Homo sapiens: one gene and its partners. The protein of the gene in region 1 purifies or fractionates together with the protein of each later gene. This does not show direct contact. Each region holds a gene or a part of one and is shown on either strand. Other genes may lie near its edges.

Region 1 (4,768 bases):
CCAGGAAGAAACTGAAACTTAAAAAGTGATTTACCAAGAGTTTTGACAAAAGTACATCAACGAAGGCTCAGGACTGTCAGAAATGAAAAATAATTATTTTTAAAATATCTATTTATTGGCTGAGCATGATGGCTCATGCCTATAATCCCAGCACTTTCAGAGATGCAGGCGGGTGGATCACCTGAGGTCAGGAGTTCAAGACCAGCCTGGCCATCATGGCGAAACCCCATCTCCACTAAAAATACAAAAATTATCTGGGCGTGGTGGCACGCACCTGTAGTCCCAGCTACTGGGGAGGCTGAGGCAGGAGAATCGCTTGAACCCGGGAGGCAGAGGTTACAGTGAGCCGAGGTCGCACCACTGCACTCCAGCCTAGGTGACACAGCAAGACTCCATCTTTTAAAAAAAAAAAAAAAAAACCTAGGAAAATAATAAAACCGTTCAAAATTGAGATGCTTCCTTACCAATTAGTGTAATGAAAGAGGGGCTTGTTATAAATACTGAGGTTACAGTAAATACCACTCTCAATATTATTTAATAAACATGGTTTCAAATCAAAACAGGTTTTTTTTTTGGTTTTGGTTTTTGAGGCAGGTCTTGCTCTGTTGCCTAGGCTGGAGTGCAGAGGCATGATCTCAGCTCACCATAACCTCTGCTCACTGGGCTCAAACGATCCTCCCACCTCAGTCCCCTCCAAGTAGCTGGGACTACAGGCGTGTGCCATCATGCCCAGCTAATTTTTGTAGTTTTTGCAGAGATGCCATATTGCCCAGGCTGGTTTAGAACTTCTGGGCTCAAGCAATCCACCCACCTCAGCCTCCCAAAGTGCTGGAATTTCAGGTGTGAACCACCCGGCCCTGCCTCAACACAGTTTTGAACCTAACTGTGTAACAATCACATGGAAGAGAGAAGAGAATTAATCCAAGTAGCTTTTGAACCCAAGAACCTTGAGTATACACCATCAATCTGAAAACACAAAGAGCTAAAAAAAATTAAATTAAATTAAATTCTACTTAATAGGTCTGCTGTTACTAGTGGTGCGAATGCAGTACTTCTGAAACTATTCTGGGTGCAGTGTAAGACTAAGCAAATGAGTAAACCTACTGATGCTGTTGGGAGCCAGGGTTCTCACTGTAGAAAAAGAGAGAAACAAACATGCAACAGAGAAAGCAAGCAAGAACCTGGAACGCTGGATTAGAACTAAAGAAACAGTATGGGCCAGGCACAGTGGCTCACGGCTGTAATACCAGCACTTTGGGAGGTGGAGGTAGGCAGATCATGAGGTCAAGAGATCGAGACCATCCTGGCCAACATGGTGAAACCCCATCTTTACTAAAAATACAAAAATTAGCCAGGTGTGGTGGCGCATGCCTGTAGTTCCAGCTACTTGGGAGGCTGAGGCAGAAGAATCGCTTGAACCCGGGAGGCGGAGGTTGCAGTGAGCCGAGATCACCCCACTGCACTCCAGCCTGGCAACAGAGCGAGACTCCGTCTCAAAAAAATAAAAATAAAAAAAAAAAAATAACAGTATGAACTTACACAGGCACAGACACATGCACGTATGCACACACCTCTTGGGCTAGACTGAAAAGATGGAGTCGCAGCATACTCTAGTAGCTAGCAATAAACACATCTACCACCAAAATCCTGCTTTCTAAATACCATCTCCCACCAAAAGGAACCAGCGCTCTGTGGGAAAATGCCCCATTCCAGTGTGGGGCAGGTAAGGTACAAGATGTGCCTGGTAAAAAGGAATTTCAAGTTGATGGAAACATGTCAGAAGGCGACACGCTCCCATCCTGAAAAGGCCAGGTGAAGGGGTTTCCACTTGCCAAGTCAACCTACTGTTATGTAGGTTTGAAATATTTCCAAAGTAAAAAGATTTCTAAAAAAGAATGAGTTAGGCCAGGCACAGTGGCTCATGCCTGTAATCTCAGCACTTTGGGAGGCCAAGGCAGACGGATCACCTGAGGTTGGGAGTTTGAGACCAGCCCAGCCAACATGGCAAAATCCCATCTCTACTAAAAATACAAAAATTAGCCGGGCATGGTGGCAGACGCCTGTCATCCCAGCTACTTGGGAGGTTGAGGCAGCATAATCACTTGAACCCAGGAAGTGGAGGTTGCAGTGAGCTGAGATTGCACCACTGCACTCCAGCCTGGGCAACAAAAGCAAGATTCCATTTGAGGAAAAAAAAAAAAAAAAAAAAAAAGAACGAGTTAAGACAATCTTGCCCCGACCCATTCCCACCTTTCCTCTCCATCTTTTGTTACCAAAGGAAAAAAAAAAAAAAGAATGAAGTTATATATGCACTGATCTACAAAGATCTCAAAATAAGTTAAATACAAAAATTAAATAAAAAATATAATTCCATTTATGTAAAATATTCTATGTATGAATGTTAGCAAATGTGAAGAAATATCAACTTTATTTTTTCTAGATTGTCCAGACAAGATCTTCTACACCCTTGGGCTCTCTCCATGCCCCATGGCTTACCATGCTGGTCTAGCAGGCATCCTTCGCAAATAGGGTAGATGGGGAAATCCGAAGAGCTGCTCCCACTGTCAGGAGTGGCCAAGAAACCTCCAAGAACTGCAGCAAAGGCCTGCCATGGCCCCCAACAAGCCTCTAACTCTTCCAGGTCCTCTTATTCTAAGACCATAGACAGAGTTCTGTAGGTAAACTAATCTACCTGGAGGCCCTAAGAAGCAGCCAGTGGCACCGGAGAGACCTCTGCATCAGCAGACCTAGTTTCAATGGAGCATCTGGCCCGGTCCTGTGGTCAGTCTCCTGCTGATCATCCCTGTGTTGACCTTCTGGGTCCCTCTGCTGTGACTCCTGCCCCTCATCCAGTGCCCTGGCCAGCCACAAACAATCCTCTCCACAACTATGAACTCCTAAGGAAGGTTTCCCAGAAAATGAGACTTCCCAGGCAAGGAAGAGGGCAGGGTCTACCTGGGGGACCCTTAGTCCACCATACCCACCAGAATACTGTCCTCAGTACTGTCCTGTCCAACAGTAGCAGCCAACAGCTGAAGGATGACAGACTAACCAAGGAAGACAAGCTAACCAAACTGATAGCTGTCTGCCATTTTGCCAGAGGTCAGCCAGAAGTCAGCCTACAGGGAGGGACCTGTAGGGGACAAGGGCACTAAGAACAATGACCAGCTCAGAGTGACTGAAGCAACAGCTACCGCAGGCAGAGGAGGAGGAGAAGGCCAAGAGGCAAGCATGTGCAGCCCATGCAGCCCATGCACCCAGCCAGCTCTTGACCAGAAACAAGCCCTGCACTGTGCAAACAACCCAGGGAAGGTCCAGCCACATCCTCACACAGGGCAGTCCAGTTCTCAAAGCCAGGTGCCAGCAAGTCCATCAGAGAGGCAGCTCCCTCAGCACCGGCTTGCTGGGGTCCCTCCCTCTGGGAGCCCCTCAACCCTCCACCCCAGGCTGGGCAGCTGGTGAGCTTCAGTGAGGATCCACATTAATGAGAAGCCACACTTGCTCTCACCTCTCAGCTCAGCTCCCATCACAGAAGCAAGCTCCTACCAGGGTGGGGCCCAGGCCAGCTGGCTCCACAGCCATGTCCCCTACCCCCGGATCCCATCCTCCCAAGGCATTTTTGCAGGACTGCCACAAGGCTCTCATCCTCCTCGCCACCCCCACCAGAGGCAGCTGCAAGGCCTGCTGGCTAAAGTAGCTGTTGCTCTTTATGTCAAAATATAAATAGGCATTTGTGCATTTGTTCAATAACTGATTTCTGAGTGCCCAGTCTGTGCCTGACCAGGCCCAGGTGACAGAGCATGAATGTGACAAAGAGCAAAACGTGTATGAACAATCCCAGCCCTGTCCAAAGCACCATGGCTGTTTCGGGGGCTCTCAGCAAGTCATACGCAGTCCCTCTGATCCCATCATAACAGCAAAGAGCACTCTCTGTGTGGCAGACACTCCTCAGAGCCACTGTACTCTGCCACCTCCTGAGGGAGCTCTCTCCCGACCAATAAGCCCTGTGCACAAACCACCTCACATTTCACATTTCAGTTCAGGGTTCCTGAACTCTATCTGTGATTAACACTAACATTTTGCCTGATGAAGAGTTTGCTTTATGTCAGACACTTTTTAGAATTTTATACTTACCCATTTTAATCCTCACAACATCTCTATAAAGCTCTGTTACGATGTCCATGTTCCAAATGAGGAAACTGAAGAGTGAGCAGTAGAACAGATTGAGCCTAGGCAGTGTGGCTCTAGAGCCCATGCTCTTAAGCCACCATACCCAACTGCCTGCCATGGGCCAGGATGAGAAGGCTTGATCTAATCCCAGCTGCTACTTTTACAGACAGCTCATTTGAGGCAAAACCAGACCTGAGCTTCCCCATCTCCCAGGAGGATGCCCAGAAGGTCCAGGGCATCTGGGTCCACAGGCTATTCACCCTCCAACCTAGACTTGCCCTGCCAAGCCCGCCATGTCCACACTGACAGGACACACAGCTTGGAATGGCAGGATGAGATGGACTGGCTTTGACTAAACTTCCCAGGACAACTGGTAAATCATGTCAGAAACACAAATACAGGTGTTACACAGCTATCACATAATAACCATACCCAAGCCCATGCATCACTCTGCTCAATGAACTGTTGGCCCAAAACTGGTCTCTCGGGATTACCGAGCCCACTCTGCAGACTGGCAGTGAAAGAAAGGAAAGAGGACGGTCATCAAAACCTCAGCACCCAAACATAACAGCACATAAGAGAAAATCTAATAGCATAC
Region 2 (4,768 bases), on another chromosome or scaffold:
CCCCGCCCCTCCTGTCCCCCAGGTCCCTCTCCTGAACAGGCAACAGTGTCCACTTTCACGTGGGTCCCCGCATCCCGCCGCCCACGTAGCAGCCCAAGGGGCCTGATAACGTCAGCTAGATCAAGCCCTCCTGTGCTGAACCCTCGCTCAGCAACTGGGGACTCAGAGCTCTTGCTACGGCACTGGCCTCTCCCTCATCTGAGGCCTCACCTCACCCACATCTGGCTCCCTTTGATCCAGATACACAGGCCTCCTGTGCATACCCCACTGCAGGTGCCCCCACCACGAGTCCCCCATATCCCAGTTCAGATCCCCAAAACACACCCCAGTGCAGGCCCCACACCCCACTGCGGGCCCCACACCCCACTGCGGGCCCCACACCCCACTGCGGGCCCCACACCCCACTGCAGGCCTGCACACCCCACTGAGGACCCCACAACCCACTGCACACTGTCATCCTTCCTGTCTGTCCAGGCGTCCCTTACTCCCTTGGGCCCCTGCTCAATCCCTCCTCGCTCAGGTCTCCTTGGGCACAGCGTGAAGCTGCACCCCCCCCCACCACCCTACTGCAGGCCTTCACACCACCCCGGCTTTTCCTCTCCAGGGTGCTATCACCTCTGGCCCATGCCACGTTTCCCTCATTCTGCTCCTCTGTGGCCTGTGAGTGCCACGTGGGGGGAGGCTGTGTGTTCTCCCATCTCTCCCAGGCCTGGCCCAGGGAGGCACCAGCCATGGCTGTGCAGCTGCGTGGTGAAGGGCAGTGACAACACCTTACCTCCCACAGAGGAGCTGCCGCTCTCTCTGCCTTCCAAACGAGGAGACCAAGGCCCAGCAACAATAAGCCACCTGCCCAAGGTCACCCTCCTAGTGAGCCGGAGCTGGGGCTGGAACCCAGGCTGCCCCAGGGCCAAGGATGGAAGGGGTGGAGGAAGGAGCCCCAGCCTGGTCTCTGGGTGGCCCCAGGCACTCGGAGACCTGGGCAGGTTGCTTCAGGTCCTGGGCTACAAGTGCCCCACGTGCAGACTCTTGCAGGAAATCAAGGGCTGGGGGCAAGTGTGCTGGGATGCTGGCCACAGGGGCACAGGCCACAGGCACAGAAGGGGCATCTCAGAGCAGGCCCAGTGCAGGGGGGTCCCGCTCAGCCCCCACCGCAGAGCTTGTGGCTAGGATCTGCAGATGAGGTGGGGGAAGGGGTAACATGGTGCCTTGCCCTGCCCCTCCGCTTTGGGCCCACGGGGGGCCGACACCCCCAGACTCACCCCACCAGGATGCCCTTGGAGCTGCGGATGAGGCCAACCAGCACCAGGAGGCAGATGATGACGTCCAGCAGCAGCAGGCCCAGGTAGCCCAGCCACCTGCAGGCAAACCTGGGAGTGCGCCAGGGCACAGGGACCCGGGGCCTGGGAGTGGGGCGCCAGGGGCCCTTGAGGGGGAGCTGAGGCCAGCAGCCTGGCACCCCAGAGGGCATTCAGAGCGTCTGGGTCATGGGGACTGGTGTCAGTTCTTGAGAAAGGCTCCCATTAGGGGAACTCCAGCCACTGCCTGTGACCTCCAGTGGCCCTGGGCCACACCCTGCCCATCAGGCCTCATGTACTAGGTGCTGAGAGCAAAAATTGGCCCAAGGAGGGTGATGCTTTCCCACGTGGGGCGGGCAGGGAAGAGGGCCTGGCCGCACCTGTACCAGTCGTAGAGATCCACCTGCTCCGCCAGCACCTCCAGCGACACCGCCGTGTTCCTCCAAAAGGGGATGGCGGCCGTGTAGCCCAGCAGCGTCTCCAGCAGGCCCTGCAGCCTCTGTACGGCTCGCAGGGGCTCGGGCCGCCCGGCCAGCTGCCGCTCCAGGGTCTGCAGGCTGGGCTCCGCCGTGTGGTTCAGCCCCACCGCCGTGTCCCACACCTGCGCCGGACCCGCGGGCGTGAGGCTGGGAGCGCGCCCGCCTCGCCCCAGAGTCTGGGCCCCTCCTGCACAGCCCCAGTCCCGGCTGCCCCGCCCGTCCTCGCGCAGACGTGGGGCTCCGGAGCAGCAAGAGTGCTCCTGGCCCCAACTCCGCGGCCACTCACGCGGTCCTGGACCCCGGCCACCGTGCGGTTGGCGTGGCGGAGCGAGTAGGTGGCCCTATGGATGCCATCACTGGTCTCCCCGTTGCCGTAGAATCCCACTGCGATGCCGGCGCTGGAGAGGGCGGGCCCGTGAGATGTAGCCCCGCCCACCCACACACACCCCACTCCAGCCCCGCCCCCTCGGGCCGCCCCCTCTGGCCCCGCCCTCCGTCCCCGCCCCACCGCGCTCACCTGCACACCAGCGTGGCGATGATGACACACCAGGCCGTGCAGCAGCAGTCGGCGTCCAGGTGCTCCTCGCTCTTGCGCCGCCGGCAGCACAGCCAGAAGGAGTAGAAGAGCAGGAAGAGGAGGTCCAGGGCGAGGCAGGCCAGGGCGGCGGCCCCCAGGAGCAGCAGGGCCTGAGGGCAGGCAGGAAGCGGCGCTGGAGGGGTGGACCCCCAGCTCAGAGTCCCACGCCCCGCCCCAGCAGGGGACCTGGCGCAGACTCCCATTTAATCCTGCCCCCAGCCCTGGGAGGTGGGCCCCATCCCCGACTTGTAGGTGAGGCATGGAGTCTCCCACCACCTCAGTGATGCACCTGGGGTCACCCAGGCCTGGACCCCACACCTGGGACCCCGGTCTCGCCATCCTCAAGGCTGCACAGCATGAAGACTCCATAGCCACTAGGAGGGGCCGGGTGAACCGACTCCAGGCTTCTGTGGCTCCAGCAAGGGCACATGTCCCCTCCCCACCGGGTCCCCAGAGTCCAGGGCAGGTGCTCAGGACGTCTGCCCCACCAGGCCCCAAGGAGAGGCGCTGGATGGAGGTAGCCAGAGAATGTGGGTGACAAACGAGGACGCTGCTGGTGAGCCACCATCTTTGCAGCCACAGCCCCACTAGGGAGGTCCCTCCACCTCTCCGAGCCTGGTTTATCTTCTGTAGAAAGAAGTGCTGCTGAGCAGGGCAGGGTGGCTCACGCCTGTAATCCCAGCACTTTGGGAGGCCGAGGCGGGCGGATCACCTGAGGTCAGGAGTTTGAGACCAGCCTGGCCAACGTGGCGAAACCCCATCTCTACTAAAAGTACAAAAATTAGCCAGGCCTGGTGGCGGGTGCCTGTAATCCCAGCTACTCAGGAGGCTGAGGCAGGAGGATCACTTGAACCCGGGTGGCGGAGGTTGCAGTGAGCCGAGATTGCACCACTGCACTCCAGCCTGGGCGACAAGAGCGAGACACTGTCTAAAAAAAAAAAAAGTGCTGCTGCTCCCCCGAAGAAGCGAAGCCCTGGGGAGGGGGCTGCCGGCATCAGCTACTGTCCTCACCCCCAGCCCGAGACAGCCCCAGGACCCCAGAGCCCGTCCCCGTCTCAGGCCCAGAACTCTCCTACCTGAGTCCTGGCAGGATCCCCCACCCCAGCTGTAGTCCTGAGGTTTTCAGGTCTGGTAGGGAAATTGGGAGCCTGTGGGGGACTGAACCCCCTCTTGCTGACCATGAAAGTGTTTCTGAGGGGTGAACATGGAAGAGGCCCCATCAGGAGTCTGATCCTGTCTGGGGTCTGTGCACCGAGAAGCTGCACTCAGGGGTGGGCACCGTCCATGGCGTGCCCCCACGCTGGATGAGATGGTGGGGCTGGCCCCACACTGCTACAGGCTGCATACAGGCGCCCCATCGGACACACAGCCCTGTCTGGCTCCAAGCACGGCCTTCCAGTGTGGCTCTCCCCAGGTCTCTGAACACAAAAGACAGACCACAGAACAGACACCAGAGCTCCCCTGTCCCGAGGCCAGGCGACCCCCACAGGAAGTGGCTAATTTGATGCAACAGTGACATTTCCTCAGCACCCGCTGCGGGGAGGGAGGGTAACGTGGCCCCAGAGCTGTCCCTTCTCCTGGCACTGCATTCGATCTGCCTGGCCGAGTGCTCTCACCCCATTTCATCCACAGGGAAACTGGGCTTCATAGAAGCTACAGAGAAAGCACACAGGCCCTGCAACCCCAGGTCCCTGGATTCAGCATAGCCCTGCCCCCGGCTCAGCCCTCCAGAACCTCCACACACTTCCTGTGCCGGGGGAGGGATGGGGAGCTGATACAGGGCTGCGCCTCATCATGGGGCCAGGGACCACCTAGAGGCTAACTTGGGGGTGCCCTGGGGGGTGTCAGCAGCTGGGGCCCTCAGTGTTGTGGGGTGGCCACCAGGCACACCTGCGCTGCCCTCATTGGCACTACTGCAGAGAAACGCCTCTCTCCCCACATCTCAATGCTTCAGCAGTGTGGCCCTCTTGGGACCCCAGCCTTGGGAGCTGCTGGGGCAGATGGTCCCCTGCCTGGCCCCCCCTTGGGATGAGAGGCTCAGCCACAGTGGGCAATGGGATTGCTGCTGGATCTCCCAGGAGACGGTTGCCAGGCAGTGGGAGGATGCCGTGTCCTGCCCTCCAGGAAGCCGGCCGACGTCCACACCCGAAGGCGGCCTTTCCACCTCCACCCAGCCAGGGAGGTGCTGACCAGCCCGGCACACCCAGAAATGAGCCGCCATGGTCCAAAGCCACACCGGTGTGTCCACGGCTGCCCAGCAGCCAGCAATCTGGGCACTGCAGAGCATCAGGGGCGGGCACCCTCCCACTCCTTCAGCCATGCACAAGTGCCTACCGCCCCTGCAATGGCAGGAGGACTGCTGGGCCCTGCACCCCCACCCTCCAGGGGCAGGACCCAGGGCTGGCACCAGAGCCACT
Region 3 (4,768 bases), on another chromosome or scaffold:
ATATTTTCCACAAAGATAAAAACACCCACACAAACCATACCATGAGATCATACCCGAAATGTGTTTACTTCTTTCAAAAGGAGTAAATCAAGTTGAATAATTTTCAAACTAAACCCAATTGTTGAAAGTTTAATTACAATGCAATTAACCTCAAAGGTTTCATTAAAAGTTTGAATTTATTTAGTAAACACAGATTGAGGAGTTATTCTAGCTATGTGGTAATAATATTCTTAATTCATCCTTTAAAACCCATTTATGCCTGAGGATGCAATTTTTTGAATTTTTCAATCAGACCTTGGTGATGACCTTGAGCAGTAGGATATAAACAACTCCCACATGCTTAGCGTTCCAATAATGGAACACTAGGCATAAATACATTAACCCATTTTTAACCCCCAAATTAAGACACTAATTTAACAAAACTGATAAACATTTAAGTACGATTCCAGATAGAGACCATGTGGGTTTTACTTCTAATCTGAGAACAGAGGAAGTGAGCATAAAGTAATCCACTTTTAACTTGTAATCAGCACAATGCCTTGTCTAATGGTAGCACAGCCATCAATAGTATAGGAATCCATTTCCAGCTGTAAAAACCTCAGAGACCACTAGAGTTCCACTGTATAAAGTTGGATTTACAATCAAAATGGATTATCTCCCAATTCTTTCCTTGGAAGAATTTCTGTTATCCTAAGGTATGATCAATCATTATACCAGCATTCTATGAACAAGCACACTGGGCTGGACACAGTGGCATACACCTGTAGACCTGTAGTCCCAGCTACTTATAAAGCTGAGGCAAGAGGATTACTTGAGTCCAGGAGTTCGAGATCAGTCTAGGTAACATAGCAAGACCCCTTCTCTTTAAAAAAAAAAAAAAAAAAAGCACACTGATTTATTATTAGCAAATACTTTAGAAAATGTGAAATGATTTGGTTTTTCATTAAAGGTTGCCATGGAAAAATAAACACTGGGGATTACACATGGGGGGATGGTGTAAGGGAAACATGGGATGTAAAATTACCTATTGGGTACTATGCTCACTACCTGGGTGATGGAATCATTCACACACCAAACCTCAGCAACATGCAATTTACCTATGTAACAAACCTGCACATGTACTCCCTGAACCTAAAATAAAAGTTGAAAAAATAAAGAGTTGCCTTGGGTAAAAAATGGAACAAAAGGAGTACACCAAAAACATAAGAATATCCTCTATAACAGATGTGGCAAAGCCTCACATAAAGTCAAGTCTCACAAAGGAAGAACAAAGGCAGCAAATGGTCTAGAGCACTTGTTCTGGGATACCTCTTGGCCCCAAATCTCACAGAGATTGTGATTTGAAGAACGAAGCTCCAAAAGACCAAATATTCAGTGTGAAACTAATTTTTAAGAAGAGGCTACCAGTTCATCAGAATTTTGGAACATACTTGCCTTAGATATTTCAGTAAGGCTATCATAATTCATTTACACTCTACAGAATAAATTGTTTCTTTTCATAATAAATATCACATTTGCATAATAATTTAAGGACTTACCTCCCATAATCGAAGAATATCTAGAAAACTAAATTCCCTTTTGAATCTGATTAAAAGCCACCTGAAGCAAAAATAAAGGTATCCAGAGTCCTGAGATTCTATGCAGAAGAAAAAAACACACATATGACTTACTCTTATGCTAATTATGTCAGAATACAGTTACTTTTCTCTAACTTTCCTATGCATCTTAGGCAATTCAAGGCCCTATACATTTGTCTTCTACGTTAAGGAATCATTTCAAACTTGAAGGCTGACTTCTTTTTAAAAACTAACAAATAATACATTTTACGAATCAAGTTTAAGGCAGAATTATACAAAGAGAGTTTGGTTCCACATTTTTATGGAACCGAAGAAAGTGCAATAGAGTATATATGTCTTTAAGTTCTTTTTTATTGAGACAGTGTCTTGCTATGTCACCCAGGTCGGAGTGCAGTGGAGTGATCCCAGTTCACTGTAGCCTCAACCTCCTCGGCTCAAGTAATCCTCCCACCTCAGCCTCTTGAGTGGCTGGGACTACAGGCATGCATCACCACAGCCAGCATTTTTTTTTCCTTGTAGAGATGGGGTCTCACTGTGCTAGCCAGGCTAGTCTCAAACTCCTGGGTGCAAGTAATCCTCCCTCCTTGGCTTCCAAAGTGCTGGGATTATAGGCATGAGCCACTGCACCTGGCTTCTTTAAAGAGTTCTTTACATTTTTTTCTATGCATTACTCTACAATTTGCTGGGTATAGTTCTGATTCACTAAACTTACCTAAGTAACTGCAAAATCCACTGTCTAACAATCGAAGTAAGGTACTCAGCTGAATTAGCTGGGTCTTCATGCCTTGCATTTGTTCTTCAAAATTCTGATGCTTTAAAAGGAAATAATTGTTACAAGTAATATTTAATAAATATTTTATAGTACATAATGACTGATAACTAAAACATGATGTCTAAGGACAAATGCTGAACTTATACCACACTGGTAATCTTAAAAAATGCGTAACTAACCAAAAATCTAACGTAACACTAAAAGGGAGGGTAAAGAGAAAGAATCCTTGCTCTCAAAACTAAGGATTATTTTTTCCTCTATTCATTTGACTTAGATAAAGAAGAATGCAGACATAGCAACTGCAGACTGACTATTTATTTCTTACACAGCATAAAAGACTTGGTGAAAGAAACACACATTTGGGAAATAAATATTTATCAAATTCTTTCCATTGTTAAATATTCCTTCAAATTATACATAATAAAATTAATTTTAGTTTTAGTATGTATTTCATTTTAAAGAATTACTTTACATTGGAGAATCTGTAAAGCCAAAACCATTTTCAGGACAATACTAAAACATTATCTGGATTTCATACTTAAATTCTTTCACAAGTGCAAAGGCTGTATGATGTGTGATACTCCAAAAGACTGAACACAGAAGCAAATATGAAAATTCAGCTGTCTTCTATTAAACCAGACATTTTTAAAAATGAAAAATTTAAAACAATCTCTTGTGTCGGTAAATTTTTCATTAGGAAAGGTTACTTTTCATTAAAAAAAAGTGATCTATGTTAAGGTAGAATGTGTTGTTATTTAATGAATTAATAAATAAATGAATACAAGTTTCTCAGTATTAATTTTTCACATAAACATCAACAGATATAACCCACATAAACAAAAACTCTTTCAGGTCTTCAATAATATTGGAGAGTGTGAAGGGGCCCTGAGGTCACAAAGTTTGGGAACTGCTGGGGTTCATATGCTTTAAAGAAACTTCATAGTTGAGTAGACTCCCTACCAACACCTGAGTCAAGGGGCCAGAAGGCACCAAAACTGATGCTCTGAAAGGCTTCTTAAATGATTTGGATCCCTTTAACTCATATGTCCCGATCCCTCTGTGGTAACCTACCGCCCTAACCCTAGTGAAAGCCTTAGAAAAACATTTCCTCCTTCACACTTACTTTTTCACTTTTACAGTACAATAGTGCTTTATTAGAACTATCATATTAGAAACAATTCATTCTTAAAAAAAATTTAAGTCTATTAATTCTCAATAAGCTGTTTCTCTTTAATGAATTTTAAAAACCAGTTTATTAATAGACTAACTCAAGGCTTTAGGATATAGTTCCTCCACATTTACCAGAGAGATCTATAGAGAAGGGGCAGAATCAACTCTGATTAACAGGATCATTTTTGCTGTGACACAGTCAAAGACTAGAGCTGATCTGGGAATACCAACATGGCATAGACATTTGCTACCCACTCTGCTGTAAAAAAGAAACATGTCCATAATGACAGACACCATATTCGAAAAAGTGGTTACTCCTGGAGAAGGGAGAGTGGGATCAACAATGGATATACAAAGGGCTTCAAATGTGTCTGTAAATAAATGTGTCTGTATGGGGCAGGGGAGGGGGAGATGGAGAGGAGAAAGGAATTAAAACTATATGGCAAAATGGATGATGGGTATAACAAAGTTCATCAGATCACTTGTACTTTGTATTTCCATGATAATAGACAAAGTCTATGCCTAGACCTACATTAGATGCAAGTAAACATCAACAAAAGTAAATTTACAGACGTTAGGTTCAGCCACCACAAAGGTAGTACAAACTTACATGAAGTAAAGCTATAAAACAGAAACACAGAATCAAGAAACAGCAGCACAGATTTAGGGACATCAAACAAGGGCAATGCAGTGAAAAACAATCATACAGGTTATTTTGATTGCCATATATTTCCCTCTCATTCAAATATTATGAAAGAAAAGATGTTAGCAGACAACATAATCATAAGATATCTTTTTTAGAATAAAGACTAGAAAAATCCCCAGAACATCCTTAATGGAAAAGGCAAACACAGAGAGCATTTACTGTGAAAATGACAGAACAAAGAAACTGAACCTTCATACACAAAAAATGACGGACTGTAAAGTGTTTATTACACATGTTCAGAAGGTAGTCTTTACATATGAGACCTATATACACACGTCTGTATGCATGTGTGTATGTGGCATTATATGTCAATATATATTTACATGCCAATATTGGATTAGTTTTATTGAAAACTTATTGCATGATACTAAATGCAGTATGTTCATCTTAGTTGTGTTTTTTTTTTTTTTTTTAGAATATCTACTATAGCAATTTAAACTAATCACTGGGGAAAGATTCACATGTTTATTCTACAAAAACCCGTTGAACAACCTCATGTCAGGCATTAGGAAAATTCTGGTATGCTACCAGTGAAACAAGATA
Region 4 (4,768 bases), on another chromosome or scaffold:
GCTCTAACTTTTTAAACATTAGTTCACATGCGTTTATTCACTTCATTATGTTCATTAAGCTTTCATCTTAGAATACCAGTTTCACCATTTGGGAGCTGTTTGTAATATGTGCAACCTTATAAATAGTGTTTTCCAAACTGTGTCCCAGGACTGCAAATCTTTAATGTGAAATGTCTTTTTATAATCTCTTCCTTTAAAAAAAACCAATAAAATAAAATGCCGCATGCAAACTCAAGTGTGTCACCAGATTTTACTTCATTGGCGCTCGCCAGCCCGCCAGGCTGGCAATAAAGTGCCTCCAGCCACCTCTGGCAGGTCTCCTCACCCACAGCCCCTGACTGGTCACCACTATAATTGTATGAGGGGCCAGGACAGTCGCTTGGGATAAACTCCCATCTCAGCACTGAATAAAAAACATTCTGTGTCACAATATCCTAGTTTTGGGGCTTTAAAAACGTCTAGGTGTTCCTCACATGCCTTGTCTATAATAAGGAAAGCAAGCAGTAGTTGGGTATTGTTAGCTTTTGAAACAAAAGCCCTACTGGTCTTCTAATTTTGGATATTTTAATTAAAGAATATCTGGACAGTACAAAGTGAATTATTAAAAAACCATTTGTAACTACCTAGATTCAATCAGGATTTCCTTGATTTGTGCAAAGTAAAATATTACAATAAATTTGATACTGCTACTTGTATAAAAACCTATGGTTTAAAATGTGGGGGTTCATCATAATAGTCTCATTGTTAGCATATCCTAATAAAGAATTTGAACTAATAAATCCTATTAATAAAATTCTGCTTTGGTCTGTTATAGCCAGTAAAGTTCTAATACAATCATTAGTTTGAGAAATGGTGACTCATTGCTAAAACAGTTTGAAATTCGTAACACTTGGGTGTCAAATTTTGACTTCCACTCAACCTACCCATGTTTTATTTCCACTGCCACCACTTACTCAACAAGATCATAAGCCTAGTATCTATAAACAACAGAATGTATTGCTCTAACTCAAAAGACTATAGTGTGGATAAATTCAATGCATTTCTCTCTGGAGCACAATGACATTTCAATGGCACTTAAAAAAGAAGGAATTACTTCAAATCTTTGTTATTTAAAAGTATTTAGAAAGTATTTTAGTACTTCTGCCCAACGCACCATTGGGGTGGGGATAGGGCATTGCTATTCTTTACAAATAGCCTGTAAGTAAAAAACAAAATTTTCTTAGGCACAAATTTCTGCCTAATACAAAAGACCGGACCTCTAGTACTGGATGACAAATAGCAATGTTCTTCCCTGCCAGTTTACTAGGGGGCCTACATCTGTGACCACCTGCAGGCTGTTTAGGCTATGCAGTGAAAAGATGCAGTTTCAGTACTTGTCACGCAGTTCCTAACCTTAGGCGAGGAGTCTCTCGTCTTTAGCAGAATCTGGTAGTTCAGTGGTTTCCAAAGAGAGTCATCCGCCATGGCCACCGAAAACTGTGCGATGCATGGTATCAGGTGCTTTGTCACCCGTTCCTGGAATTTCTCTTCTCCCCCAAGCCTGTTTTCCAGCTAGGAAGAGTAAGACAAAGACTTTGAACAACAAGTCTCATTTCTTTCTTCTGTTTGAAAAAATATCCAACATACAAATATTTTACTATCTTTCATGATATTAGCAGGTTCAAAAACCAGGCATTATTCTAATACTCTCTAGGGCAAATGTATTGCCTTCTAGAACTCAAATGGAATCTCATACCCTTTATCATCGCCCCTTTCTCTCCAGCAGAACATCTCAGAGGAGCTCTTTGCTCCAGAGGACAGCCATGCTCTGACGCGTTCTCAGTGAGGCCCAGTTAAAACAAATGAATACATTAACCATGACAGCTTATATCATGTCTGTCTTTTGAGCAGTTTAAAAAATAAAAAATAAAAAATAACTCAGGGCCAGGCATGGTGGCTCACGCCTGTAATCCCAGCAGTTTGGGAGGCCAAGGTGGGTGGATCACTTGAGGTCAGGAGTTCGAGACCAGCCTGGCCAACATGGCAAAACCTCATCCCTACTAAAAATACAAAAATTAGCCAGGTGTGGAGGCGGGCGCCTGTGATCCCAGCTATTCGGGAGGCTGAGGCACAAGAATTGCTTGAAACCGGGAGGTGGAGGTTGCAGCGAGCCGAGATTGCACCACTGCACTCCAGCCTGGGTGACAGAGCAAGACCCTGTCTCAAAACAACAAAACAAAACTCAAATTCCACAATGAAGTTATATCTTTGAAAAAACAATTTTCAAATAAAACATTTCATTAAAAAGACCAGAAAAAACAACCTTACAAAGAAAAATCCTAGCAAGCTGTCATTTGAGCAGATCTAAAACCTGCCAAGCTCGAACAGTGATGGCTTCCTCAGCAACGAAAGATGATTCTGTTTGGTTACCTGATCCACCAGAGGCATCATCAAGGCTTCTGCTCTCTCTTTACTTATAAAATGCTGGGTATCAAAAAGGAAGATTTTGTATAAACAGTTCAAAATAAACTGCAACAGCAAGCAGCACTTTTCAGGGTCATTTTCAGAGTCAAAAAATGCTTCATCTGTAGACGTGGGAAGAGTAAAAATGAAAAAACACTGAACTTAACCATTTAATCTCCAATGTTTACATTGAAATCACTATTAAAATAACTAAATCAGAAGAGTCTAAAATGATCTAGAAATCATAATCAGGACGAAGGCAGAACACAATGGATGGTCTCTCGAAGAATGATTCCTTCTTTTAGAGTTAAGATTCTAACACTCACTCTGGCAAGTTAAATTCCCTCAACTGTCAAGTGGGTCACGTATTAGCATTAGAGAATAAACTAATCTTAATTTTTGCGTTTTAAAGTTACTTCCAGTAACTGACAGTAACGGCCATTTACTTTATTCTTTCTCCCAAGTGAGGTGACTTATAACATTCGCTCATGATGCTAAAACAACACTTCACTGTCTGACAACAATGAAGTAAAAAATTCACCCTCCTTAGCTTAGGACTTAAGAACCTCTAAAATCTTGCTTCCAAGCACTAGGTTGTGTCTTACTGGTACCTTGTATAAGGCACACAGGGCAAGGGTGACAGCTGAACTGAAGCGACCACCCACCTGTTTTGGAGATGTTCACCTGGTTCAAGGTGTCAGCAAAAGGCTTCACTAAGTGGCCGGCAAACAGAGTAAAAAGCCCTTTCAGCTTTTCAGCAATGCAATCTGCCAAGTTGTAAAATGTCAACAACCTGTCCTTTGGGGCATCTTCTGTTTTAGCCCAATCAAACAGCTGAAAGGATAAGACAGTATTAGTTTCTTCGACATCTTGTCACTTAAATCTGAGCACAAAAGAGAGGAAGAGGAAGAAAGCGTCACCTTGAAGAACAGGGGCCTGAATGTGACCTCGGAAAGTTTGACAACCATGGCTACTAGACAGTCAATGATACAATTTTCCGTTTTTCCAACTTCCTCCAGATCGTTCTGAAAACAGAAGAGCCCATTTATTAGAGTGCTGATACCTGACTGTAAATTATTTTGGCAAGTACCACTGTTACACGGCTAGATTGTTCTCGGACTCTTCAATAGGTGGATAACAGCTTTAGGATTTGGAGGAGTGAACCTGAGCTTACCTCAGAGTGCTGGGCTCGGAAGTCCAGGGCTTCCAGGAAAAAGGCGGTTAGCTGAGACTGATGGGAGGTGAGCTCTTCCTTCTTCATCACCCCAATATGCTCTTGCAAGATGCTCATAAACGGACCCATGTGATTCTACCAATAACACAGGAAAGAGATGTGCCATTTTCAAATGATTCCTAGAGTTCAGCGGTGTGTATTTTTAAAAACTAAATCTTCTTCTTTAAGTCAAAGTTTACACATTGCAGTACCACCTCTCCCTTCTCCAAAGTCTTAATACCCAATAAGATCTAACCTTCCAGTTCTTCTCAATCTGCTTGTAAGTTTTTTTGATGGCGGGCAACAGGACTCGGGGTGCAAGTGTGGTAGCCAGTGTCTTTTTAAGAGATGTGAGACGGATATTAGCCTGTGACGCAGAACCCATTTCACTAGTGATTTTCTCCAGATGAATCACCTACAGGAATATAAAAAAAGTGATCAGGGCCACTGCAGATCTTCGCTGACAAACACACACTTACAGAGAGGCTTCATGATGAGGTACTAGTGTTTGGAAAATGCTTAGCACTTTTTAACTACACACAGAATTCCTTTTAAAGTCAGCCCTAAACGTCAGTGGATAAAACTGGGCAGACACCTCTTGCCCAACTTGCGATCAGGGACGAAGGCCGATGGTAGACGCAGACGCACACACAGCACCCAGACAGATGATTTTCTTAGAGGACAGGAATGCAAGGGACCACGGCAAGAGTCAAGTTGCTAAAAAACTGAGAAAGCTCCTCAGAGCACAGGCCCCTTTCTCTGAGAAGGCTACTTTTAAACCCTGGCTGTGGTGTAAGTGAAGCGGTTTAATCATTTGCCCCATGGTAATGAAGGCTCCTAACCTTGTAAATGGCAAATGATCAACACAATGGAACAGCCAGGTCTCAACATTCTTGAGCATCTTCAATCATAAATACCACTGGCCCCTAGCGTGTTGACAGGAAACCGCTGACGTGCAATACAAAAATTCTGCTTTGCAAGATGCCTTAGGATTATACCTCTCACAGTAGAAACAGGGCCCATCAATTTCCACAAGTAATAAAAGGCGGCTCTACCAGCCCAACTCCAAAGATCTCACAGAAGAAAAAAAAGCCAGAATACATTCCGCACAAT

The links.
Region 2: the proteins of DGCR2 (region 1) and TTYH3 purify together in Homo sapiens (affinity purification with mass spectrometry; one large-scale study listed by BioGRID and IntAct). This does not show direct contact.
Region 3: the proteins of DGCR2 (region 1) and TBC1D15 purify together in Homo sapiens (co-immunoprecipitation; 2 studies listed by BioGRID and IntAct, with this or other methods). This does not show direct contact.
Region 4: the proteins of DGCR2 (region 1) and HEATR1 purify together in Homo sapiens (co-immunoprecipitation; 2 studies listed by BioGRID and IntAct, with this or other methods). This does not show direct contact.

Annotation. Positions count from the first base shown.
Region 1 is NC_000022.11:19,111,874-19,116,641, forward strand, and holds part of DGCR2 (integral membrane protein DGCR2/IDD isoform 1 precursor), read right to left. Parts: intron 1-4,768. UniProt on the Homo sapiens protein: Putative adhesion receptor, that could be involved in cell-cell or cell-matrix interactions required for normal cell differentiation and migration.
Region 2 is NC_000007.14:2,644,546-2,649,313, reverse strand, and holds part of TTYH3 (protein tweety homolog 3), read right to left. Parts: intron 2,462-4,768; coding exon 2,292-2,461; intron 2,173-2,291; coding exon 2,061-2,172; intron 1,897-2,060; coding exon 1,676-1,896; intron 1,356-1,675; coding exon 1,260-1,355; intron 1-1,259. UniProt on the Homo sapiens protein: Calcium-independent, swelling-dependent volume-regulated anion channel (VRAC-swell) which plays a pivotal role in the process of regulatory volume decrease (RVD) in the brain through the efflux of anions like chloride and organic osmolytes like glutamate.
Region 3 is NC_000012.12:71,915,319-71,920,086, reverse strand, and holds part of TBC1D15 (TBC1 domain family member 15), read right to left. Parts: intron 2,390-4,768; coding exon 2,290-2,389; intron 1,637-2,289; coding exon 1,539-1,636; intron 1-1,538. UniProt on the Homo sapiens protein: Acts as a GTPase activating protein for RAB7A. Does not act on RAB4, RAB5 or RAB6.
Region 4 is NC_000001.11:236,552,189-236,556,956, forward strand, and holds part of HEATR1 (HEAT repeat-containing protein 1), read right to left. Parts: intron 4,071-4,768; coding exon 3,912-4,070; intron 3,752-3,911; coding exon 3,617-3,751; intron 3,468-3,616; coding exon 3,363-3,467; intron 3,277-3,362; coding exon 3,108-3,276; intron 2,565-3,107; coding exon 2,410-2,564; intron 1,552-2,409; coding exon 1,393-1,551; intron 794-1,392; exon of another isoform or gene 1-793. UniProt on the Homo sapiens protein: Ribosome biogenesis factor; required for recruitment of Myc to nucleoli. Involved in nucleolar processing of pre-18S ribosomal RNA. Required for optimal pre-ribosomal RNA transcription by RNA polymerase I.